Linked DNA regions of Homo sapiens: all the other regions are linked to region 2. Evidence: fine-mapped QTL for protein levels in blood plasma. A gene starts in region 2. Each other region holds a variant in brackets. All regions are shown on one strand. Distances are between the middles of the regions.

Region 1 (5,070 bases), 39 kb after region 2:
ATTAAGCATGAAAAATATTGCTGAACTACTTTTGGTGCTTAAAGTTGTCACTATTCTTGAATTAGAGTTGCTCTACAATGACACACAAATCCCATTAAATAAATTATAAACAAGGGTCAATTCAAATTTGAAGTAATGTTTTAGTAAGGAGAGATTAGAAGACAACAGGCATAGCAAATGACATAAGCTACCGATTAACTAATCGGAACATGTAAAACAGTTACAAAAATAAACGAACTCTCCTCTTGTCCTACAATGAAAGCCCTCATGTGCAGTAGAGATGCAGTTTCATCAAAGAACAAACATCCTTGCAAATGGGTGTGACGCGGTTCCAGATGTGGATTTGGCAAAACCTCATTTAAGTAAAAGGTTAGCAGAGCAAAGTGCGGTGCTTTAGCTGCTGCTTGTGCCGCTGTGGCGTCGGGGAGGCTCCTGCCTGAGCTTCCTTCCCCAGCTTTGCTGCCTGAGAGGAACCAGAGCAGACGCACAGGCCGGAAAAGGCGCATCTAACGCGTATCTAGGCTTTGGTAACTGCGGACAAGTTGCTTTTACCTGATTTGATGATACATTTCATTAAGGTTCCAGTTATAAATATTTTGTTAATATTTATTAAGTGACTATAGAATGCAACTCCATTTACCAGTAACTTATTTTAAATATGCCTAGTAACACATATGTAGTATAATTTCTAGAAACAAACATCTAATAAGTATATAATCCTGTGAAAATATGAGGCTTGATAATATTAGGTTGTCACGATGAAGCATGCTAGAAGCTGTAACAGAATACATAGAGAATAATGAGGAGTTTATGATGGAACCTTAAATATATAATGTTGCCAGCGATTTTAGTTCAATATTTGTTACTGTTATCTATCTGCTGTATATGGAATTCTTTTAATTCAAACGCTGAAAAGAATCAGCATTTAGTCTTGCCAGGCACACCCAATAATCAGTCATGTGTAATATGCACAAGTTTGTTTTTGTTTTTGTTTTTTTTGTTGGTTGGTTTGTTTTTTTGCTTTAAGTTGCATGATCTTTCTGCAGGAAATAGTCACTCATCCCACTCCACATAAGGGGTTTAGTAAGAGAAGTCTGTCTGTCTGATGATGGATAGGGGGCAAATCTTTTTCCCCTTTCTGTTAATAGTCATCACATTTCTATGCCAAACAGGAACAATCCATAACTTTAGTCTTAATGTACACATTGCATTTTGATAAAATTAATTTTGTTGTTTCCTTTGAGGTTGATCGTTGTGTTGTTGTTTTGCTGCACTTTTTACTTTTTTGCGTGTGGAGCTGTATTCCCGAGACCAACGAAGCGTTGGGATACTTCATTAAATGTAGCGACTGTCAACAGCGTGCAGGTTTTCTGTTTCTGTGTTGTGGGGTCAACCGTACAATGGTGTGGGAGTGACGATGATGTGA[G/A]TATTTAGAATGTACCATATTTTTTGTAAATTATTTATGTTTTTCTAAACAAATTTATCGTATAGGTTGATGAAACGTCATGTGTTTTGCCAAAGACTGTAAATATTTATTTATGTGTTCACATGGTCAAAATTTCACCACTGAAACCCTGCACTTAGCTAGAACCTCATTTTTAAAGATTAACAACAGGAAATAAATTGTAAAAAAGGTTTTCTATACATGATCTCTCTCCCTTTTTTAAAAAGAACTAGCAGGGTTTCTACCGGGGTGGGGGAAAGGGGTAGAAGGAATTGGCATTTTGCTTCCTGTCATGTAAGTAGGCCTGTGGTGTGATCACGGGCTATCTCCTCGCAAGTCACAGGTTAAAATGCAGGCTGAAGGGCCTGGTGGAGAAGGAAGCCCTGCTTGACACAGGTCTCTGTTCTGCTGAGCCTCCCAGCACGGTGTGGGATACAACCATTTAGCAATTCATCTCTCCTGCCTCTGCTCATTGTCAAACGAGGGAACAGAACTTCGTAGGGAATTTGGCAAACATGATTGAAATGATTCCGAAAAAGGCAACAGCACACGGGACCCTCTCCCTAATACGAGCTGTTCTTCCCTCTTGACTCATTCTTCTGAGTCAGGTGGAGGGAAGTAGCGGACCCCAGAGGAAGGGCCCATTTCCAACCACAGCACTGCCTAAAAATGGGCCGATCGGGCTCACCAGTTGGAGGAGGCAATGGCAGCAGCACAGAACGCTGGGGTTTCTTTAGCAGCTCCAGCTGCTCTTGTTGGGATTTCTGAATATTATGCAGGCAGACACAGAGAAGAAAAACAGGGAGAGAGGGAGAGAGGGCATCCAGAGAGAAAGGGGAAGAGAGGGAGGGAGAGAGGGAGAGAGGGCATCCAGAGAGAAAGGGGAAGAGAGGGAGGGAGAGAGGGAGAGAGGGCATCCAGAGAGAAAGGGGAAGAGAGGGAGGGATGGGGGAGAGAGAAAGAGACAAAGAGACAGAGGGAAAGAGGGGGAGTTGGGGGAGGGAGGAAAAGAGAGCAAGATGAATAAAAACAAGTATACTTGGCTGAAACACGCTGGAGTGAGTCAGACAGTGAAGCAATAAGATATAGGAAAGGCCGTCTGAGGCAACGGGCTGTGAACTGAAGGCCCTGGCTTTGAGTTGTGAAATGAGTGAGTTTTAGTTCATCAATATGGAGGAAAAAGCTAGACCTACATGTGTAAAAAGAAAAGTTTAGAAACAAAATAATGATGGCAGTGATAGTGGCTGGTCTATGGACAGCTACTGGAGGAAGCTCAATGTACATTTTACTCATGAAACAAAAAATACATATAATATGTTGAATAAGGATGCTTAGAAGTCAGGCATTAAAATGAGATACATTTCTCCTGCATTCAGGTTTTGCTGTCATTTATCGAAAAGTTGAGGTTTCCTGACAATCATGTTCCCTGTCGATGGCCTTAGCCACATCAGAATGGTTGTCTCCCAGGATTAATGTGTGGTGCCTTTGTGAGCTCACCTGGGAGGAAGGTGTCCCTGGACCTCGATGACTCCGTGCGAGCACCTGCCCTGTGGCCCTCCATCTCCCTTCTGCGAATCGCTGCCAGCACACCACGGGAGCTCCGCACCTTCCACCGTGGACCGGGAGGGCCGTCGTTCTAGACGCTGATGCTGCTGCTCACAGGGAAAGGTTCGGCCCAGGCCCACGCTCTGAGAGTTGTCTGTACAAGGCTCAACCAACTCGCCCTCAGGGCAGGCACAGGCCTTGGTCGTGTGGAACGAGTCGGTGGGTGAAATAACACATCTTCACTCCCAAGTATCCAAGCGTGGGATCTGTGATTGCCGGGAGGAGAGAAGCCTTCATACCGTGACCAACTCACTGGCTGCTGCGTGTCCCAGCTATAGGCTACATGGGGGCAGAGGGCTCCTTCCGTCATTCCTGGAGGACCAAAATCTTAGGCCAGCTTTGCTCAGTCTGCGTTTCACAAAGTGATGCTTTTGACCATGGAGCAAGTGGTGCCTAGGCCTTGAGGAACGCAGGTGTGGGGTGATCCAGGAGCTGCCACTCCAGCTCCACGGCCACAGCCCTGTGGGCTGCCAATGCCCAAATGGGAGGGCCCTGCTGAGGGCTATCACCCACACGAGGCCCTTAGCCCAGGGCAGGTACCTGCACTGATGCTTCCCACCCTCTTAGTAAAGTCCTTCTGGAGCCACCAGCCTGGGGGCCCAGGGGAGGGGCTGAAGCAAGCTGGGACACTCCTGCTTCGCCCGGGTGTCAGCCCTGTGCCCAGGGGAGTGAGCTGCGGGCCCAGAGCAGCTTGCGGCCCACGCAGCCGGCGTTAGCCTTGGGGACCACGTGGGCATTTGTGAGAGAGGTCCGGGCCCGTGCCCCCCACCCCGTGCAGTCCCACAGGGGCCCCTGACTCACCCTTCCCCAGCCCTTGCTCAGCGGTCCGGCCCCTCTGGCTCCCCTGAGTCTGCGCTTGGCCCCTTGCGGGTGGGGTGAGCGCGGAGCCTCGGCTGTCCCTGCCTCGTGGCCCACCCAGGGCGCCCGCCGCCCCTGCAGCAGTAGCAGGACCTACTGCCAGCTTCTCAGTTCCTGTCTCGGCCTTTTTCAGGCCGTTGAAGACTTTTGCCACTTTTCTGACTTTTTTTTTTTTTTTTTTTTTACCACATAAGGGCTTTTTCAACCCCAAAGCACATCAAATGCAGGATGGGAAGTGATATTCGACTTTCCGGCCTCCAGCGCACACCCCTGACGCGCGCGGACTGCAGGGCTTGGGTCGGGGCGTCCCTGGGAAGCTCAGCCGGTTCAGCCCCGGCGAGCCCCGCCCGCGCGCGTCCCCGAGAGCCGGAGGCCCCGCCGAGCGCATGCCCAGCCCTCCCTGCGCGCCTGCGCCCTCCCTGCGCCCTCTCCTGGGCCCTGACTGTGCTTGAATGACAGCTTCACTGCAGGGTAACCCGGAACCTTCAAAAGGCCGATTCTGCAAACAAAATGGTGTAGAAAGAGGAAGAAAGCATTAGTGCAACAAAACTCGATTGCGCTTCGTTTTATGTACGATTTATTTACTTTTAAAATATTTTTTCTGTTTTTAGATTTATTTTTCTACTGAAAAATTGTTTAGTTATCTTGAGGTGGGACAGAATTCTTCATACGACTTTTCCCATTTAAAAATGTAATTATTTTTAAATATGGCTTTAGGAATAAATTACAGTTGTTAAAATGGAGATACATATTATTTATATTTATGTATTGATTATTGAATGGTATATACGCAAGCAACATACACGTGACTATACATATGCATCATGAATACACAAACCTCCCTTGTCTCAGGCCATACTTATTCTGGATTTTAAAGAAGTGGAAAAGTTGGCAAAGTGTCAGAGAACAAGATCAACACATGGAAATCAGTTGTGCGTCTGTATACCAGACAGAAACAATTTAAAACGGAAGTTAAAAGTACAATACCATTTGCAATAACATACAAAACAATAAAATACCTCGTAATAAATGTAACTTGGGAGGCAGAAGACTTGTACTATGAAAACAGAAAAACAATGCCAAAATAAATTAAAACCTATATAAATGGAAAGACACCCTCGTGTATAGTTTGGAAGATTTAATTCTAATTCATTATAATATCT
Region 2 (5,072 bases):
CAATCGGCTTACCTTCTGTCTCCTCTAAACAGACTTCCCTGATTCTGGGCTGCCAGATTTTACAGAAGGAGGCCCATCTTCTCTGTACCTGCCCATCGGCACGTGGAGTCATGAATACATACCTTCCTGCTCCCCAGTGAGTGTCACGGTCTTCACCGCATGCTCCTGAAGTGCTGAGCAGCTGAGCTGCCTGTCTTCAGCTTTAATCAGGAAACACGCATTCTGTGGACTGAGGAACAGGAGAGGCCGTGGCACGCAGAGTAGGGGATGCCGCCCTCCATGTTCTGGCCCCAGGAAAAACTAACCTGGAGGCAGAAAAACTCAAACTGATGAATGGATAATTATCCACTGAAAATTCTTTAAGGGGAACTGGTTTATACTTTTTTTGAATTTGAGATAACATCAATCTATTTAAACTACTTTTTAATTCAAATGATGACTTTGTCCCTAATAGCTTAAAAAGCAAAATAACGTACCTTAAACATGACACATACACTCTTGGAGGCTTTTGTCTGTGCATGTGTCGGAAACTGATGTTTGCCAAGTGATAAATAAACAGGTGCCATTAGGAAAAACAGAGGTTTTCACAAATGAAAGCTCCTTCCCTCTCCCACACCCGCTCGCATATCCTCCCTGAAGACAGAGGCCAGAAAGTGAGGCTTGCTCTTCATGGTGCCTGCCGACCTCTGCAGCGCTGGACCCCTGTGGGGGAATGCCAGGAGGCTTAAGAGACACTCCCCTGCCACAGACACAGTAAGGGTTGTGTCCACAGAAATTCGCTTTAATGTTCTCTAACTAGGACTTGACGGATCCATGGCCAGGCTGACAACTCCACACAAACGTGAAGGAACCTGACAGGCAGGTGCCGACATGAAGCAGGTGCAGGTGGCTCCGGGCAAAGCAGCAGCTCCCCAGTCACCATCCACCCCACCTGGGGAAGTAGCACCTCCCCCATCCAAGGTCCACCCCAACCCAGGAGAAGCAGCAGCTCCCCTGTCTGCCATTAACCCTGACCTGGGAGAAACAACACATCCCCAGCCACCTTGCACACTGACCTGGGAGAAACAGCCTCTCCACCATCCACCTTTCACACTGGCCTGGGAGAAGTGGCACCTCCCCCATCCACTGTCCAGCCCAACTTGGGAGAAGCAGCCCCTCCCCCATGTACCATCAACCCCCACCTTAGAGCAGCAGCTTCCCCTTTCCACTGTATACCCTGACCTGGGAGAAGCAGCCCCTCCGCATCCATCGTCCACCCTGACCTCTGAGAAGCGGTGCCCCCCACCCCCATGCAGAGTGCACCCTGATTGCGGGTGATGCCTGAGGTGTGGGAGGGGCGGGGGTTAGCTGCTGCCACTGCTTCTCGTTCTCTCGAGTCCTTGCTCTGTGCCTGCACGTCAGGTTGTTCCTGTGATGGGGCCACGTGCAAGTGTGCACCAAGGGGACTTGGCCGGGTACTGTACGTCCACTGGGACACACCCTTCTACGGGTATTGCACGTCCACTGGGAGACGTCCTTCTAGGGGATCCTCACTGAGCAAATGAAGCAGAATTTGGGTAAAAATGAATTTTCCCAAAGCTGCAGTACAGCTTTTCAGTCCTCTAACTGCCTGAGATAAATGTTGGCAACTTCCTTTTATATTAAATTTCATTTTTGTCACATAATACACTTGATTATTGACCATAATAACTTTATTAATATACAGACTGATTATTGATACTCACCGATGTATTTCATGTGTTATTGAGAGTCACTCATTTGGTTTAGAAAGACCAATATCACATTGAGTAATTCGAAACATATTTAAGGCATAGAACTTGCATTTTTTTCTCTTAAGCAAAATGAGGAGTTCTAGCCAATCTTGCTAGTGTTATTTATAGCATCTTATTTCCTGAGAGAAGACAGGAAAAGTGAGTCCCTGCCTTCCCTCTCTCCGTCTGGCTCCTCCCAGGCCTGTCTGGCAGGGGCCGGGGTGCAGGAGGAGGAGACGGCATCCAGTACAGAGGGGCTGGACTTGGACCCCTGCAGCAGGTACTCGGAGCAAATGGTGAGATCAGAAGGGGGATGATGTCATTCCTTCGAAGGAATGAATTAAACGTGCTTCCTCGTGTGTCTGATTGACAGCCCTGCACAGGAGAAGCGGCATATAAAGCCGCGCTGCCCGGGAGCCGCTCGGCCACGTCCACCGGAGCATCCTGCACTGCAGGGCCGGTCTCTCGCTCCAGCAGAGCCTGCGCCTTTCTGACTCGGTCCGGAACACTGAAACCAGTCATCACTGCATCTTTTTGGCAAACCAGGTACGATTATTTCTTAAACTCAATCAATTATTTAATGGTGCTCTAATTTTAAGAAATTAGAGTTCTCGAACTCTAAGAAGCGGAGAAGAAAAAGGAGCAATTTCGATTCTTAACTTAAGGTGGGTGGTGTATCTATTAACACTAAATGGCAAGTGTTTCTTCACGTGGTGTTTCTACTGCCCGCTTGAAGAGCAAGGCACGTGGCCGCTCCTCAGCTTTTCCTCCGTGGCTGTGCTTTCACCAGCCGGGCACCCCTTCCTCTCTGAGGGTTGTGGCTGCTGCTATTTCAATGTATATACCTGCCTGGGAACCCGGGTAAACGCTTTATGTTTTCAGTTTCCGAAGAAGAAGATTCCACATGAGAGTTTGTTATTGAGGAGAGAATTAGAAACAACTCCCGGAATATCTGAAAAGTAACTGGAGATTAGAGAGAGACTCTGATTGTTAACATCATTATTAGTAGATTAGAGAGAGACTCTGATCGTTAACATTATTAGTAGATTAAAGAGAGACTCTGATTGTTAACATTATTAGTAGATTAAAGAGAGACTCTGATTGTTAACATTATTAGCAGCTGAAAAGTGGTTTTGAACATAACTAGAGAGTATTTGTGGTAAGTCTATGGAAAATCCTGTGACTGCCGGGACACACAGCGACTTTTAACAGTCTTGGGGCAGTTTGCATATGAAAAGCGAGCTGGCAGGTTGCCTGGCTACCACTTAAGGAAGGTGGGTTTGGCTGCCCAGGACTGGGAGCTGAGCACCCAGGAGTCTGGTGTTTAATCAGACTGCTGTTGGTGGTGGACGGCCGGTAAACAATTAGCTCTCTGCAAAGCTATCTTTTACTTTGATTGTTCATACGAAAAGAGTTTTAAAAGACCTTTGCAAATTCAAACTACATTCTGCTGCAGACAGGCACCGAAATCTTTCTTTTGGAAAAACACAAGCATAAACGTGGATGTGTGGCGTGCAGAGGCTGGGGCAGGGGTGAGCGGCACTGGCTCATCCGTGGCTCCATCCATGCATGCCCGGTGTCCCTGGATGGGCTGAGGCCAGGTAGCCTGGCTGCTCATCCTTCCTGTGGGATGGAGCCTCACTGTCCTTTGACAATCCGCAGCAGGGGATGCTTTGTTAGCCTCCTGCTCTTGTAAGAATCTACCTCAAGGCAGAGACAGTAGGATCTGGTTTCGTCAAAGGAGTTTGATTTAGTTTTTCTAACCTGTCCTTATGAAGCTGGGCATCCAGAACTTTCGCATTTACCATCCTGTTCTTGGCTGGCCTCTGCAGGGCCAGCCCCACACAGCTGTCCTTAGGGGACTGCGACGTACCCGGCAGTGTGGGCTGATGAGGTGGGGAGGTGGGAAGAGCCTGCCAAGGCTGTACCTGAGCTGTGTATTCTAACACCGTTCTGTGGTGCTTACTGCATGCAGGTACTGTTCTAAGCTCATGGCCAAGTGTTCGCTCCTGTCATTAAACCCTCTTAAGAGCTCCATAGAAAGGCCCTATCAGCACCACCATTATTACTGCAGCTGCCTCGGGCAGTTAGAGTAGAAAGCGCCCCAGACCCAGAGGCACATTCTGCTCCGGTAACCCATGCCTGTGGCTCGCTGGGCTAAGTCAGCCCCTGGTGAAGTTTCATTTGCCGAATTCATCTCTCATGACAACCCGATGAGGTGGGCATTTTACATGACGCTACGTTTCATTCTACGGATGAGGAAACTGAGACAGAGAAGTTAAGTAAGTTTCCCTAGGTTGCACAGCTGGTGCTCAGCATTGCTCAGCCTGGTGCTGACTCCGGCCGCAGGCCGTGCTGCTTCCGGAGCCAGGACAGATGAAACAATCACCAAGGACCCCTGGGGCGGCACTGGGGGGAGCAGATGGTTTGGGGGGGGGGTCCCAGCAGCAGATGGGTGGGGGGTCTGCAGGTGCTGCCAAGCATTTCTCTTCTTCTGAGGAATGTTTCTCTATTCCTGGAAGGTGAGGATTTCCAGGTTACCAAATGTTGTTTCTGGAGAGGGAGAGTCCTTGGATTAACAATGAGAAGTTAACGGCCTTTGATATTCTAAATATGGGAAGAATTGGGGTCTCAGTCTTCCCTTCAACCTAGAGCAGGGTGTGACCAATTGCTGGAAGGGACCTGGGGAGCCCTGGGACCCTCAGGCTCATGCTCGCCCGGAAGAGGAGAAGCTGAGATCCACAGGGTTAATCGCCCAGCCGGGCTTTGGACCACATCTCCTGACTTCGGGGCCAGCCTCCACTGAGCTGTGCCAACTTAAAATCCCCAAGAATGGAAAAACAGGCCTGCAGGAAAATAAAGAGGCAGGGTCAAAATGATGGCTAAGTCAAGTGTTCTGTTGTTTTGTAAGTATAATTCACCAAATTAAGTTTATTTGTAACTTTTTTTTACAGTTGATATTCATTCTATTTAATTAGGTTATGCATAACTGTTTTTTGCTGGATATTTACACAAAATGCGTTCACAGATTATTTTTGTCAGGCTGGATATTTTTCTAAATTCAAACTTTCTACATCTAAGTCCTGTCTACGAGTCGTATGAACAGAATTACTCCAGGCAAGCGCTGAACTTGCCCATCTTCCATTTGCTCATCTGTAAAATGAGGACAATTAGAGCAGCACATACCTCCCAGGCTATTATGAAGATGAAATAATAGGAATATTTAGAACGTGATGTGCAGTGCTTGCCGGCAAATGCTAGCTCAACAAATCTTATAGTTAGAAGAATCCTGCTTGAAGAGTAAATTTCCTCCTTCGCTCT
Region 3 (4,973 bases), 32 kb after region 2:
AGATATTCAATCCAACTTGCCTTTCCTCCAAAACGGCAGGCCACGTGATAGCTAATTCAGTACATTGCAATCTGCCTGTCAGGTTATCGTCATCGCCGTAGACTGATAGACTGGACACATGTGGCAAATTCGTGGTCCCCCTGTTTGCACCAGGCCCACCTCATCCCCACTCCCCACCATGCCACAACCCCGCTGAAAACTTGACAAGGACCCACTAAACAGCGGAAGTCCATGTCTCCCTAGGAAAAACCATTTTAGTGTGAGTTCCGCTTTAATGCCAAATAGACTATAAAAGGCAAGGATGACTAAGAAAAGTAATAACAGACATTCAGAAAACTATCCAAACACAAAGCTGGAAATGCAGGTTGATATTACTTGACAGCCATTCAGGTTTTATACCTGCAGCATTGAGTTTGGAACACGGTGAGAAATGGCTTTATGTGAATTTGCTGTGCTGGCCTTTGCTGTGTATTTATCACAAAAATTTTGTGAAAAGAGTTGAGGTTCCTGTGAAGTCAAATGTTTTGGAGATTGTTGAGCACGAATCCACAAAACACTGCAAAGCACTCAGTCTTAGATGTTCTGGGAAAGATGCACTCATGTTTCTCAGACACGGAAAAGCAAATGGCAAACCACCGACCACCGACTTTGCTTCTTTGTTTTTGTTTTTGTTTTTGCTTGTTCTTTGTGCATAGGTGATGGACGGGGTGATATTTGTAAAGATGATTTTGACAATGACAACATCCCAGATATTGATGATGTGTGTCCTGAAAACAATGCCATCAGTGAGACAGACTTCAGGAACTTCCAGATGGTCCCCTTGGATCCCAAAGGGACCACCCAAATTGATCCCAACTGGGTCATTCGCCATCAAGGCAAGGAGCTGGTTCAGACAGCCAACTCGGACCCCGGCATCGCTGTAGGTGAGTCTCTGAGACACGGCGGTGGTGCCAGCATTTCTCCGGGGGAGGCGCCCACAGAAGATGCAGACTGCACTTTAAGATCATGCAGGTGGGATGCCATGTGGTCTTTCTGGAAGCCCCCATCCTTCCATGGTCTGTGAAACTGTCTGCCTAAATAACCTTGACAGGTACATGCACCTGCCGCTCTGAAGTCTCTGAAATTTCAGTAAACCATTTTATTTTATAGACTTGGTCTATGAAATGGGACCTCATAATCCTCTCAGAACTCTTGTAAGTTGGATCTAAAAGAAATACCTTCAATTCCACTAATCTCATGGTAAAAGAGCCCATCGGGATGATGAGGGGAGCCCGCCCTGCCTGCTGGGCATCCACTGTCAGATGGTCACAGGGCCAAGCTGGGGATTGCCTGAAACCTGTTTCTTTTTTTTTTCTTTTTTTTCTTTTTTTTTTTTTGAGATGGAGTCTTGCTCTTGTCCCCCAGGCTGGAGTATAGTGGTACAATCTCAGTTCACTGCAACCTTTTTTCCCCGGTTCAAGTGATTCTCCTGCCTCAGCCTCCTGAGTAGCTGGGATTACAGGTACCCACCACCATGCCCGGCTAATTTTTGCATTTTTAGTAGAGACAAGGTTTCACCATATTGGTCAGACCAGTCTCGAACTCTTGACCTCAGGTGATCTGCCCACCTCGGCCTCTCAAAGTGCTGGGATTACAGGCATGAGTCACTACTCCCGGCCACCTGAAAGGTGTTTCTAACGAAACCTTATGGCGTTGCATCCAGGTTTTGACGAGTTTGGGTCTGTGGACTTCAGTGGCACATTCTACGTAAACACTGACCGGGACGACGACTATGCCGGCTTCGTCTTTGGTTACCAGTCAAGCAGCCGCTTCTATGTGGTGATGTGGAAGCAGGTGACGCAGACCTACTGGGAGGACCAGCCCACGCGGGCCTATGGCTACTCCGGCGTGTCCCTCAAGGTGGTGAACTCCACCACGGGGACGGGCGAGCACCTGAGGAACGCGCTGTGGCACACGGGGAACACGCCGGGGCAGGTGAGGTTGGCTGGCCAGGCCCACACATCTCCTCTGCACCACTGTGGCTGCAGAGTGTTTCAGCAGGACTAGCCCAGTCCAGAGACCCCACTTTTGTCTTTATTAATTTTAACTCCAGGCACAGTTATTTTAATAATCTTACTTTATTATAGACACTGTGCCTGGGGTTACAACTCAACACAGTTGATAATTACCAGTTAAATACAGTTGCTAATCCTTTTACAAATTAAACCTCTTTTACCCTCTTCTGGAGATAGGGAGTGAGCATAGGACATAATGATCAAAGATATAATATGAAAAAAATATTTTAAAAATTGAAGCTAGGGAGAATTGAATATCAAAACTTCAAGAATTTTGCCCAACATCCCATATCAAGGAAAGAGAAGATCCAGACATGAACCCAGGAATCTGAGGATCAGGTGCCTGGGCTCTTCAATCCAGGAATCTGAGGGTCAGGTGCCTTGGCTCTCAGCCCTGAGCCACACTCTGTCCATGGGCTTCAATCCACAGTAGAGATTTGGATGATAAACACATCAGAGAGATATGGAGCACCATGAGCCTTAAGCATGAACTTGCAAAGTCATGTTTTTGCTTCCTGCTTGGTGTTACAGAGCTGTGGTTAAGGCTCCGGGTGCCCATGGCACTCAAGAGTGCTATGTTCTCTCTCAGGTGCGAACCTTATGGCACGACC[C/T]CAGGAACATTGGCTGGAAGGACTACACGGCCTATAGGTGGCACCTGACTCACAGGCCCAAGACTGGCTACATCAGGTGAGGGCAGGTCAGCACAGCTGCATTTCTTCCAAGGGGCTTCCCATCGGACGGCACATTTGAACATTAATAGACAAATAAGCTCAAGTGAATTCTAACTTTTTGTTTTACTCTGGATTCTTCGTCATTAACTGCTTTCTCTTTTCTATCCTGCATCTCTACTAAATATTAAGTATTTTTAAAAAATGGTTGAAAAGGAGAATATACAATCTGCTTTGTTTTGGGATGATAACCATATTTTCTCCTAATGAATACCCCAGGCAGGGGAGAACACCTGCAATTAAAATAACTGCATCTTTGCAGAATTAGCATGTGCTTTATTGGAGACTAGATTTGTACCTGATATAAATGGCTGAATTTAAAACACGGTTGTATGAAGTTTTGACACAGTTAGCCCAACAGAATCTTTTCCCTTGGCTTAACAGTATTTATAATTGATTTTTATTCAAACAAAATGTGGTCAATTTAAAATCAAGGTGTTTTTGTTTTTTCAAAGTTAATAAGCACCAAGATCAGGCTGGACTCTGCACAGATGCCAGGAGTGTGTGAGTCCCTGGCAATAGAGGGCAGATCTGTGTGGGTGAAGTGCAGGCTCGTGGCCTCGCTGGAACGTTTCCCTAGGGGGCCTCCTGTTTATTCATATTGATGCCCCATCCTCCTGTCGGGGGCTTGGTGTATCCAGTCCTGCTCCCACGCAGCTTCCACAGTGGGGAGGAGAGCCGGTGAGCTCATGGTTTTAGCACAAGGTGAAGTAGGGAGAGTCCGGTGCATCTTCCCAGGAAGTGGGAAGCTTCCTCCTCACCCCACCAAAGGTAGAGTCTCCTCTAAAGCCCTTGCCTGGGTGACTGTAAGTGAACTCACAGATTGTGACAATAGTGTGGTTGCAAGAAGGAAGGCGTGCCCTGGATCAGTGCTGCACCAGGGGTGGCTGGAGCTCCAAAGGAGAAAGCCAGCAATGCCCCCTGGGGCACTGAAGCCCTGGGCGGAGTATCCACAGCTTGTGTCCGGAGCCAACCTTCCATCACTGGTGAATGCTTCACAGAGTTCATGTTGTCTTTCTTTCCTCTTCTTCTTTTTAAACACCATTTTTAGAGTCTTAGTGCATGAAGGAAAACAGGTCATGGCAGACTCAGGACCTATCTATGACCAAACCTACGCTGGCGGGCGGCTGGGTCTATTTGTCTTCTCTCAAGAAATGGTCTATTTCTCAGACCTCAAGTACGAATGCAGAGGTGAGTGTGAGCACTTCAGGTTAGTGGGGAAGGCATGTGGCACCCAGAAAGGGAAAGGGGTACACAGTGCGCTCTTCCACTTACAAAAGCTGTACATCAGGGCAATAAACCTAATGCACAATACCACACATGAGCCCCCTGCACATTCCAAGCAGCCATTTCATTTGGTCAGCTTGGATTGTTTTGTTTTTAATTGCATTTGGATGCCTCTGGTAGAACACTTTCCAATTATTTACAGGTCCCACCCATCCTCATTGTGCCATAGCCTAGAGTTTCCTAGATTTCCTCCACTTCCAGGCTCCTGACGCCATTTTAGATTGGTACCCTTGCATTAGCAATGGCAGGCAGGCAGGAAGGAAAGAAGGAAGGAAGGAGTTTCTCTATAGTTATCTCGCTACAGGTATATTTGAATCAAAATATTATAGACCTGGAAGATAACTTGAATTCCATCTGCTCTAATTCCATGCCTTCAAATGCGCATTACCCTTCCACAGATGCAGTAAATAAGGCTCAGGATGCTTCTCAAGAATCACACATTGAAAATCATGTGTTTGGCTGGGGGCAGTGGCTCATGCCTGTAATCCTAGCCCTTTGGGAGGCCAAGGCGGGTGGATCCCCTGAGGTCAGGAGTTCGAGACCAGCCTGGCCAACAGGGCAAAACCCTGTTGGGGTTGATTTATCTGCTTGCTTCTGTGGAGGTTTTCTTCTCCTTATGTTAGGATGTCTTTCAAGGCATCTCATTTCCTCCCATCCATCCATATCATTCATCCACCCACCCATATATCTCATCCATCCACCCATCCATCCATCCATTCATCCACCCATCTCATCCATTCACCCAACCATCCATCCATCCACCCACCCACACACCCACCCATCTCATCCATCCAACCACCCATCCACCCAACTATCTCATCCATCCATCCATCCACCCACCCATCCACCTATCCATCTAATCCATCCACCCACCCACCCACTCATCCATTTCATCCATCCATCC
Region 4 (5,072 bases), 95 kb after region 2:
GCAGATGCACCTGCCCCAGCTTCAGCACCAGCCAGGGCTGGATTTGCATCCTGCCTCTTCTACTGTAACATTTGAAAACATGGCTTTCCCCTCTCAACTGTCAAATCTGGAAAACAGAAGGGCCTGCACGTTAGCCTGCTGCGAGGATCACATGAGAGGCTGAGGAAGCCCCCGTCAGGTGCAGGGCCTGGAACTCGGCCAATTCCTGCTCCTCTGGGCCAGGTTCGGTGGTGTGGCAAAGGGTCCAGCAACACAGGCTCCCCCGGAACCCGTGGGGAATTCTTGCCACGTTGCTGTCCCATGACGGGCAGCTGCTGCTGTGGCTGCTGAGCCGGCAGGCGTCTCCGTTCCACCAGGTCACTCCACCCAGGTCCCTGCTGCTCTGACATCCTTCCAGGCGTGGTCCTCATTGGGTCAAAGCTGCCCGCCACAGCAGCGGGTCCAAATTCCAGTCCACGGGGAGACAGTATTGCTGAGGATTCACTATTTGTAACTCATTCTGCAGCACGAGACCAATGTCTCTTTACACTCTTCTTTGCCCGGCCTTCCGAATGGCTGCCCAGTCTCATTTCCCCAATCATGACGCTTGAGCTCTGAGGCTGGGGATGCTACCCTGCTAGCACCCAGGCATTGAGGAGAAGGAAGGGTCTCGCCACAAGGAAAGTCCATCTTGGCAGGCATGTTTCGTCAATGTTACATTCCTGTTTCTTACACATTTTTTAAAGTCAGGGACTTGCTGGGCTGTGTCCTAGAACACAAGCATTTTCTTCACAAAACTACCCTTTCCTTGGAGTTTCGCTGGGATGTGTTCTCCCGTGGAAATGATGCCGTGGGGGTGGCTTGGTCCCGTCAAGTTCTTACAAAAGCCGCCTTGGCCAAGTGCAACTGGAGGCTCCTCCTCTGCCACAAGTGGTTGTGGAGGTAGTGAAGGAAGAGGCGATACCAGCGGGCTGTGTTGTATTTGCTAAGGACATCGTGCATTGTGGGAAGCTTCACAGACTTGTGTAAAACCAATCAGTGGGCCCTCAGGGAGCCGGTGCCAGCTGTGCCGAAGCATGACCAGGGGATAGTGAGCACCCCACGAAGCCGTTCTGGTGGGAGAGACACCCCAACCCATGGCCTCATCTGCTGACAGTCAGGGCTCCAGCCCAGAGATGCGGCAGGGCCTGCTGGCGGCACAGAACCGCTGGGGTGTCGTCCAGATCCCAAGGCCGTGGCCCCACGCTGGGCCTGGTCTCGGGGGCTCTTCCTCATCAGCTACCTCATCGGGCCCCTGCTACTAGTGAAGGGGATTAATCTACGTGGATCTGTGCATCTGCCTTAATATCATGCAAGAAAACACATTCTTGAGTCAGATGTCAGAACTATTCCTATATTTAACTCGGGGGATGTGGAACATGGCTAATCAACATCACCCTTTCTTTTCGTGAAGGACCGAGATGCCCAAATCCTGGCCCTCCTGCTGGACTTTCATTTTAAAGAACAATAAAATTAATGTTAACTTCTAGCAGCTTCCAAGCTCTGGTAAGGTGATCCAACCCTAAATCCCAGTAGTCACTACTGGAATACGGTGAACCTCTCTCTTTGAAGCCTGGCTTGGCCGTGTGTCACTCCCAGTGGACGGAATGCACTGTCTCTGGTAAAGGGGCGTATCCCATCTCTGCAGGTTTTCAAACACAGGCTAAGGACGTGTCAGAGATACTTTGACGGCGTTAACAGTTCTAGTGAGCCGTGTGCCAAGACAGCCTGGAAAGTTTAGGGGTTCCCGTGCCCTTTTGGGTATAGTTTGCAAACTCTTATGGGCACCCACCAGGAATAAAGGATCCCCAATATCATCCATGGCTTATGGCTGGAAATCCCGAATACATCTACAAAATGGTGACATTGCCGAATAATCTGTCACCCTGGGGAGTTGCCACAAGGAAAAACCCAAGCCGCTCTGTAGCAACATGGTCAGCAGAACAATCACTGAAGGCTGACATGGGGTTTGGAGTGTTACAAACCACACTTGGACTTCTAGGCTGCGATTTTAACTGCCCCTCATCTGAATTCAAGCTTACTTTGTTTTGCATTGTTGAAGCTGATGCCTGTGCTTTTCTTCTTCCTTTGCAGTGGCCCCGGAGAGGGTCAGCGAGGGGCCTCCACTGTCTGAGTCCGCTCCTGGCAACGCCTGCTCTCTGCACTCAGAGGCCCGGTCCCGGCAGCTGCCACGTTGCTCAGAAGTTCTGGCAGGGGGAGCCTGAAACC[C/T]CTGTCTGCTGGCGACACTCCCGGAGCAGCAGGAAATCTCTACATTTTATTTTTTTTCTTAACAGACAAAAGTATTTGACTCCAGAATGATTTCCAGGAATTACAGTATGAGAACTTAGTCTTTGAGATTTTTATTTTCTTCTTAAAAAAATAAAAATGAAATCAAAGCAGAAGACACTGGTTGAGCAGACAGCACACTAGCACATTCCACTTCGCAACAAAACCTGCGTGTTTTCTGCCCGGTCTACCTCAGACAGGGATGGTGGGCTTCATAGCCTTTCCTGTGGAAGGAGTTCAGGGCGGGAGGGAAGTGCTGGGGTAGGAGGGGCAGGCAGAACCTGGAAACTGCGCCCCATTCTTTCTTCTCGGAACTCCATTGCCAGAGGGCTTGGAGTGCTTCTCGGCGATTTGGCATCTGCTTCTCCTCTGCCCCTCATTCAGAGTTCTCATTGCAAGAAAAGCAGGGAAAAGGTTCAAAAAACCCTTCAGACTTGGAGCCGTTCCTCGGTGATAATTGAACCACCAGAGGTGCTGGCAGGGCCATGGCGAGAGGCACCTCTAGGAAATCTCACACAACCCACACTGCTCCCCTCTCCTGCATGGCAGTGACCCTCCCATAAAAGGGTACAGCCTGTTGTGCCAGCTTTGCAACTGGGATCATTGCAGTCTCTGGCTTTTTGACTCCAGGCGGGCTCCGTGCCCTCCGGGGCCTCTTCTTCCTTGTCAGGCCAGTGGGAGCCACAGAGGCCTCATTGGCTTCCTATGAATATTAAATGGGATTCTCTGTGGGGGAAGCTTCCATAAGGCAGGAAGGGGTCCCCGGTTGTTGGCTATTAGTGTTATTTTCTTTTAAATCATCTGTGCTCCTTCAAAGACGACGTAAGAAGCTTGTGCCCTGGCGTTGCAGAAATCTCTGGCTGTAGGGATTAAACCTACATGTCTTCCTGATGGGGTGGTGAGGACGTAAACGGTGAATAGTGCCAGCCACAGGGAGCATTGCAGAGAGTAACCAAGTGTGTGATAAACATGCTGTCATATGTGTGTAAACGGCCAAGAGACCACTGCTTTTGCCTGAGTGACCTCCGCAAGGACACAGAAATAAAACATACAAAAAAGTTGGCACTGAGTGGTCTAGAATCTTCCATCTCTGTTTTTTCTTGGTAGAAACTAGCCTCAAAGAAAACATGTGCTTCAGGTTGACAAGATCTCCAGTCTACCAAGCCTATCTGTCCCTGAGAATTGGTTATCTATTGCAGCATAACCATTCACCTCCAACTTTAGCTGATTAAACAACCCTTTCTCATCTCACACAGTTTCTGGGCTCAGAAGTTGAGAAGCAGCCTAGCTGGCTGACTAGCTGGCTGAGGCTCAGGGGGTCCCTTGGGTCTGCAGTTATCTGAAGACTGGATGGGACTGGAGGTGAGGCTTCCAAGCACACTCCTGCGGCCATCAGAAACCTCAGCTTCCCAAGTGAGTGATCCAGGAGGGCAAGGATTTGCCTGGCAGGAAGCTGCGGCCACTTGTGGCCTGGTCTCAGAAGCCCACACCCCCCTTTTGCCATATTCTGAGCACACAGACCCCAGCATGAGGCAGGCAGGCTGGAGCAGGGAGAGCCACAGCAGGCCAGGACCTGGGAAGACTGTCTTGGACGCCGGCCGTCACTCCCAGATAGCACTATGTGGCTGATTGCATCAAACGACCATCCATGCCTTTCCTGCTTCAAGGATGTGAATCACAAGCCTGGTGAGGAGCCTCTGAAATGCACGAGGGAGGGGTGTGTGTACAGCACCCTGGGAGCCTGTTACCAACAAAGGAAAATGAACCACGGATGCCAGGTCATTCCCAACAGCAGATAGACATGTGATTTCACCCATCTTAAAACAAAACAGAACAGATTCTCCCAACCCATGCTGTCAGTAAGCTACGTCCCCATTGCTCTGCACCCACTCCCATCAGCCGTCACCCCCACCATTTAGTCCATACCACTCTGTGTCTGTGGGGGCAGCACTCGGGTGATCCCGGCGGTGCCTCTCAGTCCCCTTCCACGGGCCTGTCAGCACACAGGGAAACTCCGACAGCGTCTTCAGCTCACTCCTTGCTCTTCACTTGGCCTCTAGGGTCCCGCTCTTTGGTTCTCAGCTGCCTCTGCTAATCCCTCTGTTCCCAGCTTCTGAATATCGAAGGAACCACAGACTCATTCCCGGATTTACTCCTCTTCTCTGTCCACATGGCTTTAAACACCATCCTCACACCTCTGACTCCGAAATTCATACCTCAGGTTCAGACCACTCCCCGACCCCAAAACTCATATAGGGTCTGTCCACCGAACCTCTCCTCTCAGTAGACATGGATAATTCAAAATGTCCAAACTGAGCTCTTGATCTCCCTTTCCAATCCGTCCTCACCTGCAGCCACCCCACCTCAGGTGAGGGCAATGCCGTCCTTTCTGTTGCTTAGGCCGAAAACCTTGAAGAGCCCCTGAATTCTCCCTTATCTTACACATCACATCCAGTCCGTCCAATTACCCTCCTAGTGCATGTCCAGACACACCTCCTTCCCTCCTTGGTGACGCCCTGGTGGAGCCGCCATCACTGCCCACCTGAGTGAGTGCAGTGGCTCTCCCATGGCTGTCCTATTCCTCTCCTTCCTCTCCATGGGGAGTTCCTTCCATCATGAAGGCTGTGCCACCCTGGCTCCTCGCTCCCCCTTGAACACACCCATGGGTGTTCCTGCCTAGAGGCCTCGGCACTGCTTTCCCCTCTTCCTGGAACTCTGTCCCCTGGGATCACCACCTGCCTAATTTCCCCACCTGTTCCTCGGTTTAT
Region 5 (5,072 bases), 65 kb after region 2:
GGGACACGCGCTGTAGGTCTGTGTGACTCCAAATCATTCAGCTCTCTGGAAACTCAGTTTTCTCATCTGTGCGGCAGGTCTGCAGAGACAGGGTGAGAATTTCAGGAGGCCCACAGTGGGTGACCAGTGTGATGGCTTTTCTGTCCTCCCTTCGCTGAATTCCTCTTGGTATGCTAACAACTCCACACTGACTGTTATCAGGGCCACATTGGGGTTTCAGAGACCGTATCTACTGTTTTATGGCCAGAAGTAGAAATTTTTGAGTTATGTTAGGTCCATTTTAGTTGTAGCCACTTTTGTGTAGCTTTTTTTGAGTTTGGGTTTCTCTTATAGTTTAATATGCTGCAAGTTTTACACATTTTAATAACATTAAGTTATGCAGTATTAAACTTTTCATAGTGTTCTGCATATTTTCTTTTAGTTTTAAAATTGAAATAGTCTTCAACATTTTAAATCCAGAATTCTTATTCAGGGAAAGCTCCAAACCCAGAAATAACTATTACATTTTGTGCCAACATATGAAATAAAAATATTTCTTTGAAAAAAATTAGCAAATCATTTGTGGTTCTCTTAATGGCTAGTAAGAATATGTCTAGCTTTTACTTGATTATGAAATGGAAAATTGCAACACTTGCCTTAAATAAGTAATATAAATTTTGCCAGACACTAAGATCCCAAATTTCCCAGAAAAGCTCGATAACGATGACCCAAGGCAGGAAGAACTCAGATTCCTACGGTTGGGCTGCTTTTGGCTGCACACAGGGCTCCCACAGGCATGTCTGGCGCGGTGCTGAGGTCCACTGATGGGGGAGAGGGAACTGCCCGGGGGAAGGGCCGGGAGGTGCAGGGCTTTGTTTGGGACTGGTGCAAATCAGGGCCCGGGAGACACTGGGCAGGACCAGAGCATTCATGTCTGAGCTTCAGGGCTTGGGAAGCTGGAGATGGGGCAGCCCCAAGCTTGATGCTCAGCCTGTCCTAGGAAGCCTTGCTGTGTGTGTGGGAGGGTGGGGTTGAGTATTATGAAGGTGGATGAATCCCACAGTGAGGGAGTAACTGCATGTGGCCTTAGAAAATATTTTGAAGTCAAATAATCATGAAAATGTATTAATTCACTCACTCAACCCTTCTGCCATATTTTGTTCATGCCTGTGGCATCCCAGAGACTCTCTAGGTAGGGGGCTGTGGTGTTGACAATGCAGGCTAAGGCCCTGCCTGGTGGCTCTGAGGCTCACAGGTCCTGAGGAGTGAGGAGGATGTGAATAGAGTAGGGACGAATTCAGGGCTCAGGATTTGGTACTTTCCCAGAAACTCTTTTACAGAGAAGCATTCCAACATTTGGCAAACAACGACAACATTCGACAACCACAAGGGAAGGCCACACAGGAGCGTGGTGCTCCGGCTTGGGGACGTAACGGGTCCCACAGAGCTGCTTTTATTAACGATAAGGAATTTCACACCCCTGTGTTTGCCCATGAGAAGCAGAATATTGTCTGATGTGCTGAGTATCACACACATATTTTGATCCTCTTAACTAATTATTTGAATAATGAAGCCCAGAAAATGAAAGGAGTAAATAAATTCCACCTTGCAAAAAATACAATTTTGCAGTTTACAAAGTGTTCCAGTGAAGCTATGGGATCCCAAATCAACTCCTGCACCCCTGCGCTCCCTAGCCCAGGAGCTGATGCTCTGCCCAGCACACCCCACCCGCGGCTCAGCTGCCATTGTGAGTGTCTCTTTGCCCTCGGTGATGAGTGCAGCACCTGCCTTTCTGTGTAAGCTACGCTGAAGTGCCCAGTAGGATTTCTGTGAGAGGGAAATATGCAAAACCCCATTGATGTCTATTCCCAGTGATCGAGAAGGAAAAAGGCTCACTGTTCCAGGAGGCTGCACAAGTTTTTCTGTCACCTTAATTGATGTGTGTCTAGTGTAACATTTCCAACAGACAAAAAATATGGGAAACGTTGCACTTTCTTCGTTCTAGCCCCACAATGTATACCATGTGCTACTGTGAAACAGAACTTCTGTGAAAGGACTCCTGGCTGGGCGTGGTAGCTCATGTCTATAATCCCAGCACTTTGGGAGGCTGAGGCAGGTGGGTCACCTGAGGTTAGGAGTTCAAGACCAGCCTGACCAATATAGTGAAACCCGGTCTCTACTAAAAATACAAAAATCAGCCAGGTGTGGTGGTGCATGCCTGTTATCCCAGCTACTTAGGAGGCTGAGACAGGAGAATTATTTGAACCTGGGAGGTGGAGGTTGCAGTGAGCTGAGATGGCACCACTGCACTCCAGCCTGGGTGACACAATGAGACTCCATCTCCAAAAAAAAAAAAACCTCTGTGAAAGGACTCCTAAGCAGGTGCTCAAGGAAAACAAGCTCGCCCCTTACTTTGCAGCTGCCGAGTGAGTCAGCGACTCACACCATTGTCTGAGCCTCTGGTTTAAAAGCTGAGGTTTACCGTGAATTATGACGTCACCAGAGTCCATGTGGTTTTGATATTTATAAGTAAAATTCTCAAAATGTGAGCTTCCTTGGTGTCATGCTTTGCTGTCGCTGGGGACCCTTGTGGGTAGCACTGCAGGGAACAGCTGCAAACCCACTGCTCACCTGTCTCCAGACTGAGCTGTCAGTCTTCCTCTGGCATTCTCCCTCCCTCCCCTCCAATCCAGCCAGTCTCCAAGGCCTCCTGGGACACTGGGGCTCAGTTTCCTTCCCTCCAACCCCATGGCCACTCTGCAGCTTGGGGCAGAGGCAGTGGGCTTCCCGCTCCCAGGCCTACTTCCCTCCATTCTCTACCAGCAGCTGGAGGGATCTTCTGAAAACAAAGCTCTGAGTGTCTTCTCACCTCCTCAAAACCCTTCAAAACCTCATGTGACTCAGAGAGCACCTACAGCGGTCCCCAACACCC[C/T]GGCAGCACCTCCTCACTCACTGTTGCTGGAGGCAGCCTCACCAGCAGGCCTCGTTCATCTCCGTGAGTGTCCAGAGACGCCCCCTCGCCCCATGCTGTCTGCTCTGGATGGTGGAGGCTCTTCCCTCTCCAGAGCTCTCCTCTGTGTGGAGGTCGGGCAGCTGTGGGAGGCACCAGCCACGTGCTGTCCATGGCTGGTGGCCTTCTACTGGGGACAGGGATGGGGGACAGGGGGATGGGGGACAGTGACAGGGGGGACGGGGAGCGGGGGGACAGGGTGACAGCCTGCCCGCAGCTTTGCGGTCATTTGCAGGGTTTACATTTGCTCGACTCTTTTGACTTTTTAAATCTTTTTTAAGTGCATGGCTGTGTTGGGTTCACAATTATTTGAATAAACAATCGTTCAATTAGTTTAGTTTTATCCAGTTGTTGCCTATCAGTGGATGTGTGATCTAACACAAGCTTATACAAGGAGAATTTGCTCTTCGTTACTGTGTTAACAGTATTTCTTCTACTTATAAATAGATTAATCCAGTAAAATGTAGAGAGGCGAGAGAGAGCTGAAACTAAGGTCTGCTGAGTGTTTAACTTGAACACGCTCTTATTTGGTGGCTACTTTTAAACAACTCCAGAAATTTAATAAATTACTCTGGATAAAAGGTTGCTTCCTGTTTCTAAGGAGCTGTCCCTCTTTAGATCAACATTTAAACTTACATTAAGATGTATACTTCTTGGGGTAATTTAAAGTTGAGCTGAGATTCTCTTCTGGATAAGCAGGATCACCAGGTCGGGATGGCTTTTCTCTGCTCTTGGTTCTGCTCACGTTTTGCCACATTGGAGAGTTTGTTCTTGCAACCGTCCATAAGTAACTTGTCTGCTTTCAGAGGTTTTAGCTAAATTTCTCTTCATAAAATCATTCTAGCAAATTTATTATGCAAATGGTATAAGGGATTAGCTTTGCTTTTTTTTGTACTTTAAATTATTCTGTCATCTTTCTCTTACAGTACGTGTCCCGTAGCACCTAAATAAATTTCTATCTCTTATACCTTTTGTTGTGAATACATGTTTTGGTCTAAATACATATAATTGCTAAGTTTTGTTGATTTGGGACTAGTTTGTGTTCAGAGTGGTGGAGTCAATGTGAAGTCTCCCGGGTGTGAGCAGGTGCCGTGCAGAGGCTGCACGGGGCTTCCCCGGACCTGCTCTCCAGGATGCCCACCTCGTCAGGCTCACCCCCACCACACCTGAGCTTCTGTCCGTGGAGGTGGTTGAGGCGGCTGGTGGGTGGCGTGTGTGTGGTCATGGCCCTGTTCAGTTACGCTGTCTGTTCTTAACTTCTGCCACATCCTCCTTTGGCCTTTAATTTCGTAAAGGTTGTTGTGGGTGGAATGTTCTGTGGTCCATTTCTTTCCACCTCAGAGCTACCCCTGGACCTGATGTTTTTGTGTAAATGCTGGTGCTCACTCTGCGGCCATCGTAGGGTTTGCTGAAGATGGTGGCGTGTGGCCGGGTCAGCAGCAGCCGGTGGGGGCTTCAGGGTTTGTTGATGGCACAGTGGGCTCCTCCGAGGAAGCGAAGCGCTGCCCTCAGTCCCGGCTGCTGCTGGCGGCACTCGGGCCGGTGACTGCTCATTTTATTGAGCTCATGGCAAGGCGTAGGGGGTGGCTGACCGCAGCCTGGGTCTTAGCTGTCATGCTCAGAACACACTAAAGTCACTTTCACAGTTTGTTTTTATTTTAGCGGTAGCTTTTCATGGCTTAGTTGGGGTTTAACTTTATTTGTGTATAAACTTAAGCACGCTTTACACTGGGCTTTATTAATTTGGGTTAAGCCTATGGCCATGGTGGCCGGCACGAAATTTACCAACCCTAAGGAAAATGACTGTAGCTTCTCACACTTCTGCTTTACCACCACATCTCTACCTCCGCTGTTTCCCGCAGGGCCGTGGCGGAGTGGGGAGCTAGGAGCTGCTCCTGAGTGAGCCTACGGCCCGTTGCTTTGGGTCTCCTGCGAACCTAGAGGCCTCCGTGCAGGAACACAGGTACCTGGATGCGTGGCCTCGCAAAGAACTCATGAGGAGGCCAAGACCAGGCTGTGTGCTGATGGTGTTGCATGAACTCAGGCTTGGTCAGTGCCTGGCTTCAGTGATGTCAACGTGTAC
Region 6 (5,072 bases), 26 kb after region 2:
CTCACCGTGAAAAGCTGAGTTAGCAGATAATTTCAAGTTCTCAGCCCTGGTTTCTGAACATATCACATACATATTTGAAAGACTCTTTTCTTTGAGATTTTTTGACTGGTGAGGGTTAAACGTTTATAAGCTTTGGCATTTTGATTTATGAGCTGAAGTCTGTGGGAAGGAAAGCACCACTAAAGCCTCTTTTCTCTCCCATGTTCTCTCAGAGCAATACCTTGTCATTCTCTTCTTGTTTCTGCAGTTGTTTGGCAACCTCACTGGGATTCTGGGCTCCGAACACAAGTTTCTTTTGTCTCCCTCGTGAGTAGTGGTGACATAATTTCCAGGGCAGGAGTTGAGAAGAAATTCATGCGCTTCTGGCCTCCTGGCTCCTCTCTCAGCTCCCGCTTGAGATCGAGGACTGATGGGGCACGCTTCCTTCCTCGGCGCCATGCTGGTTTCATTTCACCTGCATTCCTGAAAGAGGCGCTTTCCTAAATGTTTTTCCAAGTATTCTTCCTTCTCCAATTGCAGGATAACTGCCCCCATCTGCCAAATTCTGGGCAGGAAGACTTTGACAAGGACGGGATTGGCGATGCCTGTGATGATGACGATGACAATGACGGTGTGACCGATGAGAAGGTAGGAGCAGCTTGTGCCGCGCACCTGCCCTGGGTTCCAGGAGCAGCGAGGTCCACAGGAGGCCACTTTATACCAAACAGCCCTTGTCAACGTAACTGCCATTGTCCTGCAAGCGTTTGTGCATAGGCAGTTCCCAAAGGTCACTATAAAGACAGTCCTTTGCAAAAGCGGATTTTACCTCAGTGCATGGGGCTGCCCAGGGTGTGCTGCCGGAAATGTTTTGAATAATTTTTTCTATTTTAACTGCAAAAAAATAGAAGACCTCCTCTCCTTCTGCTGAGGAGCCAGTGATGGGCAAGGCTGACACCACCATGAGTGATAGACTTGCCTTTATGGCAACATTTAAAATATTACCATTTTTCTAAGAAAATTGCTGCAAACACAAATGGTTTAATGTATTTGTACACAAAACAGCTCTAGCAAGAATAGATCAAGATTTTACTCACTGCTTTTTTACATCTGACTTTGATGGGAGACATTGACTCACTAATCCATTCATTTATTTGATATTTACATATCTCTCCTCACCATGAAGTGTATGATATACCATTTTTGCCTTAGCAATCTACAAATTTTCAACAAAAGACAGATGCATAAATAATGATAAAATGATTTGATATGGAAAAAGTGTTTGGCGAGGGCTAACTCTTTTTTTTTTTTTTTTTGGTCGCTCAGGCTTGAGTGCAATGGCATGATCTTGGCTCACTGCAATCTCCATCTTCTGGGTTCAAGCGATTCTCTTGCCTCAGTCTCCTGAGTAACTGGCATTACAGGCGCACACCACCACGCCCGGCTCATTTTTGTATTTTTAGGAGAGATGGGGTTTCACCATGTTGGCCAGGCTGGTCTCGAACTCCTGACCTCAGGTGACCCGCCTGCCTTGGCCTCCCAAAGTGCTGGGATTAATGGTGTGAGCCACTGTGCCCGGGCCTAACTGGCTTTTTAAAGCACTGGGATTAAAGGTGTGAGCCACTGCGCCCGGCCCTGGTCTTGAACTCCTGACCTCAGGTGATCCGCCCGCCTCAGCCTCCCATAGTGCTGGGATTAAAGGTGTGAGCCTCCGTGCCCTGCCCTGACTGGCTTTTTGAAGTGCTGGGATTACAGGTGTGAGCCACAGTGCCCAGCTGTGATTAAAGGTGTGAGCCACCGTCCAGCCCTAACTGGCTTTTGTGTTTGTTTGATTTCTATATTGATTTTCATCAACCTTGAGTACATAACTTATAAGTGCTAAACGGCCCGACACACATTCCTATGATCTTCGTTAAAGTCTTCCCTTTCTTGGTTTTCCAGGACAACTGCCAGCTCCTCTTCAATCCCCGCCAGGCTGACTATGACAAGGATGAGGTTGGGGACCGCTGTGACAACTGCCCTTACGTGCACAACCCTGCCCAGATCGACACAGACAACAATGGAGAGGGTGACGCCTGCTCCGTGGACATTGATGGGGACGGTGGGTGCTTCTGCTCCTTCCCATGCGTGCACTTTTTTTTTTTTTTTGAGATGGAGTTTCACTATTGTTGCCCAGGGCAGTAGCACCATCTTGGCTCACTGCGATCTCCACCTTTTGGGTTCAAGTGAGTCTCCTGCTTCAGCCTCCTGAGTAGCTGGGATCACAGGTGCACACCACCACGCCTAGCTAATTTTGTATTTTAAGTAGAGACGAGGTTTCACCATGTTGGCCAGGCTGGTCTCAAGCTCCTGACCTCAAATGATCCGCCTGCCTTGGCCTCCCAAAGTGCTGGGATTACAGGCGTGAGCCACCGCGCC[C/T]GGCCCAATGCATGCATTTTAAGGGTCGCAATTGGAGGCATTGGCAAGTTTCATGTTTTATTCTGAATTTTGATAAGCTCCTTTCATTTTTACACTACTATAAGATTAAATGATTCATTCAGTTATTCCCATAGGGACCCATGCTTATTCTGCCTTGCCTTTTCCTGAAGGTCAGGGGACACCAGCCACAGGACCGCCCTAGAGAAAGCTATGCATTTGGTATCCTCCTCTCTCTGACCCCAGCCTTGCAGTCCTGGGCCTCGTGCTTCTTCATGGCATCTTTTCTAATGTTCACCCTTCATTCAAAAATTCCAAGAAGCCATTTCATGTTTTCATCAAACTGAGCTTCTAGGAGTTAGAATAACGTGGGTGTATTGTGGTTACCTCTGCCACTGATCCCGGTTGCTGCTTTATCCGGAGAGTTCGCTGGCCTTGGTAAGCGAGCTCTGCAACCCAGTGCCACTGTCACCGCATGGTCATCCCTTCTCTTGGGGTGCCTGGAGACCAGGCGAGTGCTTCTGTAGAACCAGCAAGAGCTGGGGGCAGGCTCGCCTCCACGCTGGAGCTCGGCCCCAGCTCCTCCACACTTCGCCTCGTGGGGTCCTCTTCCCAGCCCGGCGCCAGCCACCCCCTTTCTGAGCCACCCCAACCTGCTGTTCTGTCTCACAGCGGGTTTCTCAGTCTGATCTTTTCCACTGATTTCTGCCTCCACCCTCCTCTCGTTCTCTGGGAATGTGGTGGGTTGCTGTCTGAGGGCTCGTGGTGGCCAGGGGGCTCCTCGGCTCCCCATCCAGGATGGCGTCTGTGATGTGCTGGATGCAGATCTCAAGCTCCAGTCCCTTCCATTTTTATTTTTTAGGTGTTCCTTACTTCCCTTCTCCAGACCTCACCTGACCAAAGCAAGGCGAGCGTCTCAGCTCAGTTCTGGCTCTTCCTGTGGACTCGCTGCCGTGTAACATTTTGCTCTGTCATTTGTGACACTGTCACTGATGGTATTGTTTAGTTCAGTGCTAGTTTATATTTTTGTAACTTCAGTATCAATGCAACTCATCACTTTCAGATTTCTTAAGATAAGATATGACATCTAAAAACCCTGCCACTCTCTGCCATTGTTTTTTTCCTACTCATGTGCATGGATGATAAACTCCTGGGAACTCAACACATACTTTCCAAGTGGGTATTAGGGAGAAATAAGCAATTTAGCAAGCTCAGATTTACACGGCGACAGCACATTCAACTACCCCTCCTGCAACATTACCCAGAAATCTCCAAAAGTTGGTTCTATTTCAAATGAAAGGTATTTGAACTGTAATGAAATATGTCATATGTTCTTCTAAAATCTAATAGTCTTTATATTTTACTATATTCTTAGGCGTCTTTTTATTATAATTAAATAGAAGTGTGGCTGTAAGCAATTTCGTGTGATAGGAAAAACAATGTGCTTTTTCTAAACTCACCTGTCCTTCTGGTTTGTTTTTGTTTTCTTCCCCCTTTAAACACTTACAGATGTCTTCAATGAACGAGACAATTGTCCCTACGTCTACAACACTGACCAGAGGGACACGGATGGTGACGGTGTGGGGGATCACTGTGACAACTGCCCCCTGGTGCACAACCCTGACCAGGTGAGGGCAGCCGCAGACAGGCGGGGTTGGAGGTCCTCATCAGAGGGACGCGGGGACGGTGGCGGTGTGGGGGATCACTGTGACAACTGCCCCTGGTGCACAACCCTGACCAGATGAGGGCAGCCATGGGCAGGCGGGTCTCAGGTCCTCATCAGTCCCCTCCATGGGGCCTTGGGAGTTTTCCATGAGCTCCACAAAGACAGGATAACATGGAGTTTTCAATGATTTCAATTGAAAACATTTATTCAACTCAAATCTCAGCACTATTCTTGTATCTCAGTGGCCACAGGCCAAATGAATAGACGCCTTCACCTCATCAGCTGGAGCGAGGTTGTGTCTTCACAGAATTCTCTCCCCATTTTCCTGATGCCAACATAGGAATTGGCTTCATTTCCAGGTTTGCGTTTGAAAGAGACAAGGGAGGACAGTTATCTTGATGCAGCTCATAGGATATATTATCCTATGATGTAAATGGTGTAAATGGCGCAAATGGTGTAAAAAAGAGACATAATTACCTGGTAGTTCATGCTTTTCCAGCGAAGAAGCACATCTTCCTTTAGTGAAGTGAATTACTGTGGAGAGGTGGCAGAGGGTGGAGAGATTCCTGGACCGAGAGGCCTGGCCCCAGTGCTTGTCCTGACGTCAGGGTCAGTGTGACCTCGGGCCAGCCGCCCCTGCGTGGCCCTGGGGCTTGTGCTGCAGGACGAGGAGGCCGGCTCTCAGGCTTGCGTCCTGCTGGTTCCTCTCCACCTCCTCAAACTGGCAGTCCTCTGCTGTTTCTCTCACGCCCCATCCCCTAGACCGACGTGGACAATGACCTTGTTGGGGACCAGTGTGACAACAACGAGGACATAGATGACGACGGCCACCAGAACAACCAGGACAACTGCCCCTACATCTCCAACGCCAACCAGGCTGACCATGACAGAGACGGCCAGGGCGACGCCTGTGACCCTGATGATGACAACGATGGCGTCCCCGATGACAGGGACAACTGCCGGCTTGTGTTCAACCCAGACCAGGAGGACTTGGACGGTGGGTGCTCTCTCAGCT

Alleles and levels. Alleles are on the strand shown, and positions count from the first base shown. The strength of an association depends on the size of the effect and on how common the allele is.
For the plasma level of the protein whose gene starts at base 2,175 in region 2, allele A in region 1 goes with a lower level than allele G (moderate association).
As copies of C replace T in region 3, the plasma level of the protein whose gene starts at base 2,175 in region 2 goes up (moderate association).
With allele T in place of C in region 4, the plasma level of the protein whose gene starts at base 2,175 in region 2 is lower (weak association).
As copies of T replace C in region 5, the plasma level of the protein whose gene starts at base 2,175 in region 2 goes up (moderate association).
With allele C in place of T in region 6, the plasma level of the protein whose gene starts at base 2,175 in region 2 is higher (weak association).

The links. PIP is the posterior inclusion probability: the model's chance that the variant is causal. The UK Biobank Pharma Proteomics Project read protein levels with antibody pairs (Olink). The fine-mapping took linkage between variants from a reference panel, not from the people measured, so its PIPs are less certain.
Region 1: its variant is fine-mapped to the plasma level of the THBS2 protein (UK Biobank, PIP above 0.99).
Region 3: its variant is fine-mapped to the plasma level of the THBS2 protein (UK Biobank, PIP 0.99). The variant lies in the coding sequence of THBS2. If it changes the protein, the assay may bind it differently, which can mimic a change of level.
Region 4: its variant is fine-mapped to the plasma level of the THBS2 protein (UK Biobank, PIP 0.93).
Region 5: its variant is fine-mapped to the plasma level of the THBS2 protein (UK Biobank, PIP 0.97).
Region 6: its variant is fine-mapped to the plasma level of the THBS2 protein (UK Biobank, PIP 0.93).

What each region holds. Positions count from the first base shown.
Region 1 is chr6:169,212,359-169,217,428 of GRCh38, reverse strand. THBS2 (thrombospondin 2) reads left to right here. Exons shown (of 22, transcript NM_003247.5): 22 at 1-1,644. It overlaps THBS2-AS1 (THBS2 antisense RNA 1), which reads right to left and starts at 4,217. Exons shown (of 3, transcript NR_134621.1): 1 at 3,851-4,217; 2 at 2,942-3,255. RefSeq lists a silencer at 4,129-4,478. The variant G/A (reference allele first, on the strand shown) is at 1,427.
Region 2 is chr6:169,250,949-169,256,020 of GRCh38, reverse strand. It overlaps THBS2 (thrombospondin 2), which reads left to right and starts at 2,175. Exons shown (of 22, transcript NM_003247.5): 1 at 2,175-2,297. RefSeq lists enhancers at 2,589-3,100, 3,101-3,613, 4,126-4,639.
Region 3 is chr6:169,219,198-169,224,170 of GRCh38, reverse strand. It overlaps THBS2 (thrombospondin 2), which reads left to right. Exons shown (of 22, transcript NM_003247.5): 18 at 696-923; 19 at 1,703-1,974; 20 at 2,644-2,741; 21 at 3,834-3,973. All of the region lies in intron 2 of THBS2-AS1 (THBS2 antisense RNA 1), which reads right to left. Among named protein-coding and RNA genes, the nearest start is that of THBS2-AS1, 8.5 kb to the right of the region's middle. RefSeq lists an enhancer at 1-138. The variant C/T (reference allele first, on the strand shown) is at 2,666.
Region 4 is chr6:169,155,497-169,160,568 of GRCh38, reverse strand. It overlaps LINC01615 (long intergenic non-protein coding RNA 1615), which reads left to right. Exons shown (of 2, transcript NR_132623.1): 2 at 2,113-2,477. Among named protein-coding and RNA genes, the nearest start is that of LINC01615, 5.0 kb to the left of the region's middle. The variant C/T (reference allele first, on the strand shown) is at 2,248.
Region 5 is chr6:169,186,105-169,191,176 of GRCh38, reverse strand. No RefSeq gene overlaps it. Among named protein-coding and RNA genes, the nearest start is that of LINC02544, 5.9 kb to the right of the region's middle. RefSeq lists enhancers at 2,338-2,837, 2,838-3,339. The variant C/T (reference allele first, on the strand shown) is at 2,912.
Region 6 is chr6:169,225,127-169,230,198 of GRCh38, reverse strand. THBS2 (thrombospondin 2) reads left to right here. Exons shown (of 22, transcript NM_003247.5): 14 at 520-627; 15 at 1,918-2,077; 16 at 3,901-4,019; 17 at 4,820-5,054. All of the region lies in intron 2 of THBS2-AS1 (THBS2 antisense RNA 1), which reads right to left. It overlaps LOC124901470 (a long non-coding RNA gene), which reads right to left and starts at 4,848. Exons shown (of 2, transcript XR_007059889.1): 1 at 4,535-4,848; 2 at 4,245-4,404. RefSeq lists an enhancer at 4,967-5,072. The variant C/T (reference allele first, on the strand shown) is at 2,395.